2 linked regions of the Homo sapiens genome follow. Each later gene encodes a partner of the first gene's protein in a complex. Each region holds a gene or a part of one and is shown in the gene's direction. Other genes may lie near its edges.

Evidence for each region.
Region 2: KLHL42 (region 1) and CUL3 share a complex: the UniProt entries of both Homo sapiens proteins name them as parts of the BCR(KLHL42) E3 ubiquitin ligase complex.

Annotation. Positions count from the first base shown.
Region 1 is NC_000012.12:27,789,974-27,793,795, forward strand, and holds part of KLHL42 (kelch-like protein 42), read left to right. Parts: intron 1-1,734; coding exon 1,735-1,928; intron 1,929-3,822. UniProt on the Homo sapiens protein: Substrate-specific adapter of a BCR (BTB-CUL3-RBX1) E3 ubiquitin-protein ligase complex required for mitotic progression and cytokinesis. The BCR(KLHL42) E3 ubiquitin ligase complex mediates the ubiquitination and subsequent degradation of KATNA1.
Region 2 is NC_000002.12:224,498,196-224,502,017, reverse strand, and holds part of CUL3 (cullin-3), read left to right. Parts: intron 1-1,530; coding exon 1,531-1,655; intron 1,656-1,800; exon of another isoform or gene 1,801-2,838; intron 2,839-3,822. UniProt on the Homo sapiens protein: Core component of multiple cullin-RING-based BCR (BTB-CUL3-RBX1) E3 ubiquitin-protein ligase complexes which mediate the ubiquitination and subsequent proteasomal degradation of target proteins.

The DNA of each region.
Region 1 (3,822 bases):
ACTAACCTAGTTTCCATAGTGTAATGCATCAGTTTTATTGAACACTTTTTAGGGGATCAAGCATGGGCTTCTTGTTTACTGCTTCTTCTTAATCTACTCCCTTATATAAGTTTTTTGTGTGTGCATAGCCTCTACCTCCATTCTTTCTTAGTATATTATTATTTTTGAAGACATCATTGTGTTGGGGTTGGATGTGGTCTTGAAATTCACTTGGTCTAGCACCTTTATTTCAAACACTAGAAAACAGAAATTTGAATGATAGTATTTTATCTCTGTGTAGTAGTTTCTGATAGACTATTTGATTTAATCATCTCTACCACCTTGTGATGGCTGTTACCCCATTTTACAGATGAGGAAGTGAGGTGGTTGGACCAGGGTCAGATAGCTGGTTATCAGCAGAGCTGGGACTAGAAGCGAGGTCTTCTGATTTGTGCTCAGGTTTTTTTCTGTTGCATCATGCTGCTGCTCATCCTCTTGTAAACTTGTGACTGTTGCACACCTCACAGCAGACTGACCCAACACTCCCAAGAGTTTATCCTTCCTGCCTTTTGTGTGCTATATCGAAACAAATTAATTTTGTGTTACTATTCAGTTCAAAAATCATAAGACTTATTTAGTGTCTGAAGCTGATAAGCAGCATTTAATTATTTTCTGAATATAGAGCTGGAAACCATTGTCCATCTCTTTTTCAAGTTATTATTTTTATGAAAGATGAGCATTTGTCAATAGAAGTATTTGTTGAATTAACATATGTAAAGACCCTAAGAATGCTGGATCAAAATATTTTGAGGCTGGTTGTGGTGTCTTATAACTATAACCCTAGCACTTTGGGAGGCTGAAGCAAGAGGATCACTTGAGGCCAGGAGTTCAAGATCATCTTGGACAACATAGTGAGATGCCATCTCCACAAAAAACTGTTTATAAAAAATTAGCTGAGTATAGCTGAATATGATGATACATACCTGTAGTCCAAGTTACTCGAGAGGCTGAGGCAGGAGACTCTCTTGAGCCCAGGAGTTCAAGGCTGCAGTAAGCTATGACTGTGCCACTGCAGTCTAGCCTGGGTGACAGAGCAAGACCCTGTTTCATAAATAAATTAGTAAATAAATAAATACAAACTGTGAATTTGTTCAGTGCTGACCTCTCCCCATCTTACATGTTGTGAAGCAGTATGTTAGATGCCCTTGGAGGCGGGAGGCAGGACCAGTGTCTTGCTCAGGTATACTCGTTGTGCAAGGATCTCCTGACCTACCCTTTAGCAGTCACTCCTCGCACCTGCCTGTCTCGACAGCACCAGTGTGTCCCTAAGATGAAGCCATACTACTCAGTAGGAAGAATGAAATACCCATTCTGAGAGGTGAAAGACAATGGGGTGATGTGGGTGCCTTCCCCTCTTACCCTTGTGCCTGCCCCTGAAAGAAAGTGTGGAGTTTAGTGTATACACATTGTCTTTGGTTGCTGGACTAAGGCTGAACAAGATTAATAACTTGTTGTATTGAACTGCTTATCTTCGATAGCTAGTGTTTGGACAGTGTGCCATTCCCGTGGAATCTTGGGGACAGGAGTGAGATTCGAGAAGCCATCCTTTCCTCCTCTGTCCTCAGGCGGAATGGCCCCCAACTGGGAGAGCGAATTTTCTTCAGATGTTCAGGAGAGTCTAGTAGTTCATGCCATTGTTACACTTTTCATTGATCAGAAGAACTAACTCTGTGGGCCTTTGTGTCTCTCTTTCAGGTCTAACTTCAAACTTGTGGCTGTTAATTCAAAACTCTATGCCATCGGAGGGCAGGCCGTTTCTAACGTTGAGTGTTACAACCCCGAGCAGGATGCGTGGAATTTTGTGGCGCCCTTACCCAATCCTCTGGCTGAGTTCTCTGCCTGTGAGTGTAAGGGAAAAATTTATGTCATTGGAGGATACACTACCAGAGGTAAGTGAAGGGACCAGGTAGGTGGTCTGCCCATGTGTAGGCGTCAGCAGTCTGGGAAGGGCAAGAGGGTGTCAGAGGAAGCCCCGACATATCCGAGTGTCATGTTATGCTTTAATAGTGTACACTTACACATCTGGAAGGAAGAGAGTTCCATATGGCAGGGATGATTGGGACAGGAGGGATCTTTTGATAACTTTGTGTGAGCATGAAAATCGAATGGGGAAGGGAGAGCTGTGAAAAAAAAATGTTATCTCTTTTTTTTTGCTTCTGGAAACCCAGCTTTTTGGTCAGCCGTCTTGTGATTTGGCTGGGCCTGGTTTGTGGGGGTCGCTCTCTGAGGTTGGGTAGCTCTTTGGAGAAGATTATCTGGGAACTCCCATCCTTATCCCAAACATACACCAAACCTGCCCCCATCCACCATTATGGAATTTAGTACCAGAGCATCCTTGCAGATTAGTTCTCATTTTCTCTCTTTGTGAGCACACACACATCAGGTAGAGGTTCCAGAAACCCAGCTTTAGGACACTGTTCACATATCACAGGAGGAGCAAGGACATGAATACAAGAGAGCTCTTTCCTGACCAGCAGTGGGAGGTGGTTGTACTATCTATTTATTTGTTTATTTATTTATTTATTTTTTGAGATGGAGTCTCCTTCTGTCACCCAGGCTGGAGTGCAGTGGCGTGATCTCGGCTCACTGCAATCTCTGCCTCCTGGGTTCAAGCAGTCCTCCTGCCTCAGCCCCCCAAGTAGCTGGGATTACAGGCTGCACCACCATGCCCCGCTAATTTTTGTATTTTTAGTAGAGATGGGGTTTCACCATGTTGGCCAGGCTGGTCTGTAACTCCTGACCTCAGGTGATCCACCTGCCTTAGCCTCCCAAGGTGCTGGGATTACAGGTGTGAGCCACCGTGCCCGGCCTGGTTCCACTATTTATTAAAATGTATATATGTGTTTTTCACTTTTTTGGTAGGCATTTTATTGTTAATAATTTGGAAATTAAAAAAATTTCTCCACAAGCTTATTTTTTGTGGAGACAAGGTCTCCCTGTGTTGCCTAGGCTGGTCTTGAATTCCTGGGCTAAGTGATTGTTCTGCCTTGGCCTCTCAAAGTGCTGGGATTACAGGCATAAGTCACCATGCCCTGCTTGCCAGCAAGTTTTATACTGCTCTTTTTGGTAGGGAATTGTCTCAGGTTACAGTGATAGAGAACAATGTAGTTGTTGGTGGGATACAGTGGCTCATGACTGTAATCCAGCACTTTGGGAGGCTGAGGCAGGAGGATTGCTTGAGGCTGAGAGTTGAGGACAGGCCTGGGCAACATAGCAAGACACCTTCTCTAAAAATGAAAAAAATTAGCTGGATGTGGTGTCATGTACCTGTAGTCCCAGTTGCTTGGGAGGCTGAGGCAGGAGGATCACTTGAGCCTGGGTGTTCAAGATAGGCCTGGTCAACACAGCAAGACCCCTTCTCTAAAAATGAAAATAAAAAAATTAGCTGGTTGTGGTGGCATGTACCTGTAGTCCCAGTTACTTGGGAGGCTGAGACAGGAGGATTGCTTGAGCCAGGGGTTTGAGGCTGCAGTGAGCTATGACTGCTCCCCTGCACCCCAGGCTGGGTGACAGAGTGAGACCCAGTCTCTAAAATAAAAAAAAAAAAAAGAAAAGAAAAAATAAAACTGTGGTTGTGGGAAGACAGACAATGGGGGACAGTCAAGCAGAGGGGTGCCTTTCCTTCCCTCTACTCTCCAAAGCAGATGTCTCCAAGTTACCTCTTAGCCAAGGAAATCTATTTCTGCATTTGGTCTGTGTGACTCTATGGAGCCCAGGACTTACAGAAAAGGTGTAACCTGGCTCTTAGGACTTTAAGCCACATTATGGTAGTAGACCTGCCGT
Region 2 (3,822 bases), on another chromosome or scaffold:
CCATGACAGAAATTTCGGGTGGACAGGAAATAGTGGTGTAATTATCCTGGATTTTTATTTTTAGATTGTTTAGGAATTTATAGTTAAATCTAATATATTGATATATTTTCTTGTATTTTTTTGTTTGCTCTAGTAAGTTTTTAAATTTTTTTCTTCCACTAATCTTACACATTGAAAGCTATAGGGAAGATTGGGCTAGATCCCATGCATATTGATATGGGATGGATGGACTGTCCACTTTGTGACCCTCCCTTCCCCTAACCAACTTGCGAATGTATAAACAGTTCTCCACCTCCCCCAGTACACCATCTAAGAGTCTCCTCTATGATCCTCTCTTCTGTGCATCATCCAAGTTTATTTTCAGTTTCCTTAAAGTTAAGTAATCATTTAGTGGATACTTGTGAAGAAATCGGAGTGTAGAATGCTTCTTGATATTCATAAACTGATTCCTCCCCTTAAAAATTTACATTACTAAATCATTGAGGTAAGATAAAAATGGAATGATGGTTTATAACACATCCTGAATATCAATAATAGAAATAATATTTAATCTTTAAGAGTTTTTGTTGTGCCTTATTGTTGTTTACTTAAAAATTTAATTTGTTTAAAGGAAGAAAATAATTGTGACAGTTGATACTAGCATAGAAGTAGTTATTCATTGTACAGATATTTGTAGAGCACCTGCTCTGTAGCACTGGATCTATAGTGTTATAGCACTGGATCTGTATGCAGAGGTTGTTAGAATGTGAGCTACATGCTAAAACGTAAAAGTTTTAATTAACTGTAGTTGAAATAGGTGCTGGAATATTAGAAATATGTATTAAGATAGTAAAAATATTTTAAAACTGAGACGAAGGATATTATGCTAGAATTTTCTCTAAAATGATATAATTGACCCTCCTTGACCTTTTATTTAAAAAGGCCCAAACTTTTCAGTTCTCAGTGATAACAGTAAGACTTGATTTATGTGCCAAAAACTATTCTTTGGTCAGTGTTTTTAAATTAACATAATAAGCAATAATTAAGCTATTTGCCATGTAGTTAAAATTTGGGAAACACTGGGTGGGTCTAACCTTTAAGGAAATCTGTTTTTTTGCCGGGTGCGATGTCTCACGCCTATAGTCCCAGCACTTTGGGAGGCTGAGACGGGCAGATCATCTGAGGTCAGGAGTTCGAGACCAGCCTGACCAACATGGAGAAACCCCGTCTCTACTAAAAATACAAAATCAGCCAGGCGTGGTGGGCATGCCTGTAATCCCAGCTACTCGGGAAGCTGAGGCAGGAGAATCGTTTGAACCTGGGAGGCGGAGGTTGCAGTGAGCCGAGATCGTGCCATTGCATTCCGGCCTGGGCAACGAGCGAAACTCTGTCTCAAAAAAAAAAAAAAAAAGAAAAGAAAATCTGCTTTTTTTTAAATTAGATATTAGACATGGAGCTAACTGCTTTGGTAAATCTAACACAATGTCTAAACAGAACAGAAAGCAAATCCTAGTTAATTTTGAGGGGAATATCTCTTTCTGTTTTACATAGGTATCTTTAGGTGGTGTTGATCTTACAGTCCGGGTGCTCACGACAGGATATTGGCCCACTCAGTCAGCCACACCAAAGTGCAACATCCCACCAGCACCAAGACATGCTTTTGAGATATTCAGAAGGTAAATCAAAATCAGACTTTGTATCACTGTGTACAAGTAAGTGTTCAAAATTAAAAATGAATTTGAACATTAGTATCCGTAATTGAGGATGAATGTATTCCATTTATTACCTCGTGATCAAAAGGAGCATTTATCCTGGCATACAGCAATTTCCCCCTCTATAGGATCTTGATGAGTAAAGTAAAGCAGGCATAATTTATCTCTAGAAAGATTGTTTATATGCTGGCATTTGAAATGCCTTTTATTTAGAGCAGCAGTAAAAATGGAAAAAGAGAAAGTAAATGATGATGGAAAACTAGACCCAGAGAATTCCTTGGACTTTTCTGAACACTTCAGCTAACTCCAATTGTTGGAAATACGTGGATACCTTATTCCCACTAGTACTCAGAGTCTCTGAGATGGCAGTTTTGATGAGGAAGAGGAGCAAGATGAAAAAAAAACAAGAGTGATATGCAAGAAAAAAACAGAGAAAGATCCAAGCAAATATTTTTTTTGGGCTGCTGAAAATAATTGGCTTATCCAGTGTGGAGACTGCTTTGTGAAAAGACCACTCGTGTGAACACTAGGGATGAAGATGAGTGTATCACCCCCTTCATCGAGCAGCCTAAGGTGGACACTTAGACATTGTCTGTGAGCTGATTGCACAAGGGGCAGAAGTTTTTGCAGTGACCGTAGATAGCTGGACACCCCTGCAGGGTGCTTATAAGTGGAATAATACCAGAGTGGCTTCTTTATTTCTTCAGCATGGTGTAGATTAGTTATCAGTGACCAAACAAAAGGTCTCTTGACCCACTTGCATCTTGCTGCTGGGATCAGAGACAGCAGAGCTACTCTAGAACATCTACTGGTGAACTGTTAACCTCAAACCAGATCTGAAAAAACAACTGGGAAGAAACTGTATTTGATATTGCCAGGAGGACAAGTATCTGTCACGACCTCTTTGAAATTGTGGAAGGCACTGTACAAATTCTTCACCTTAGTCTTAATGATTCTAGTAATTGTCTTAAGTGTCCAAGTACCAGTGCCTTCTTTGTGTGAGATGTAAAATATTCCCATAGTAAAAGGTTGACATCAAACATCTTACTACAAAAAATTCATTGGTACTTATTAAGATGTTCTTCCAGGTGAATTGCCTGACCTTGATGTCAAAATGTATTTGAAAGTTGTTTGAATATATCTTGAATGATTTCTGTGGAGTTTGTGATTTGTATCAGAAATAATTTCGACTTGCCTACACTTAAAAACTTGACGTGGGTTGTACAGAAACTAAAGATATTTTTGGTGCTGATCCAGGAGATACGTATTTTTAAATAGCCCATATCCTGGATCTTTGTTGAGTATTCAGCATATTGACATGTATCTTTGTAAGGTGAAGTAACTAAGAATTTAACTTAAAAAGCCTCGAACATTCTGGTGCTATTCCTGCTGTCTTCTCTACATTACCATAGCCAGTTGCTTTCATTTTGAACCAGAAGCACTAGCATATTATTGACTTGTAGCTTCATAAATTAAAAAAATAAAAACTAGATTTTGTCTTTTAGAACATAGGCCATTTTCCAGGAAAGCAGCTAGGTTTTAATCCATTAATCTTGTATACTGTCTCCACCACCACAATTCACATAATCCTGTAGACAGTCCTGCTTCACCCTGGTCAACTGCATGATCCTTATTGTAATAGTGAATCAGTATAACACTTTAGACATGCACACAGATAACACGCTGTTGCAAGAGTTCATGATATGTCTGCTGTCCAACTAGTTTTATTTGCCTGATCCTACTGGTTTAGGCACTGCCTATAGTCTCGAGTTCACAGAAATGTTGGGTTTTTTCCCTCCCCAAAGTCCTCATTTTTTATAAACTGTAGAAAGGCAAAATGACAAGGGAAAAGGAATTCTAAGAGTGAAGGGATGATTGTTATATTGGGGCAAGAACCACAGAGTGGCTCAGGCTTTGGAAAAAATATGGTGTGGATAGTGACAAAAAACATAAATATAAAAATTCAAGAAAAACTACCAGTTTTGAACAACAAAAACAAAGGGAGAGTTTATCCTTTATAATTTTAATATGTAAGAAAAAATTACATAAACTTTTCCCAGAGGAATATTTTATAAATGTGCATTGAGTATTTTTCGTACTGTGGTATAGGAGTATATTTTGTACTGTTGAT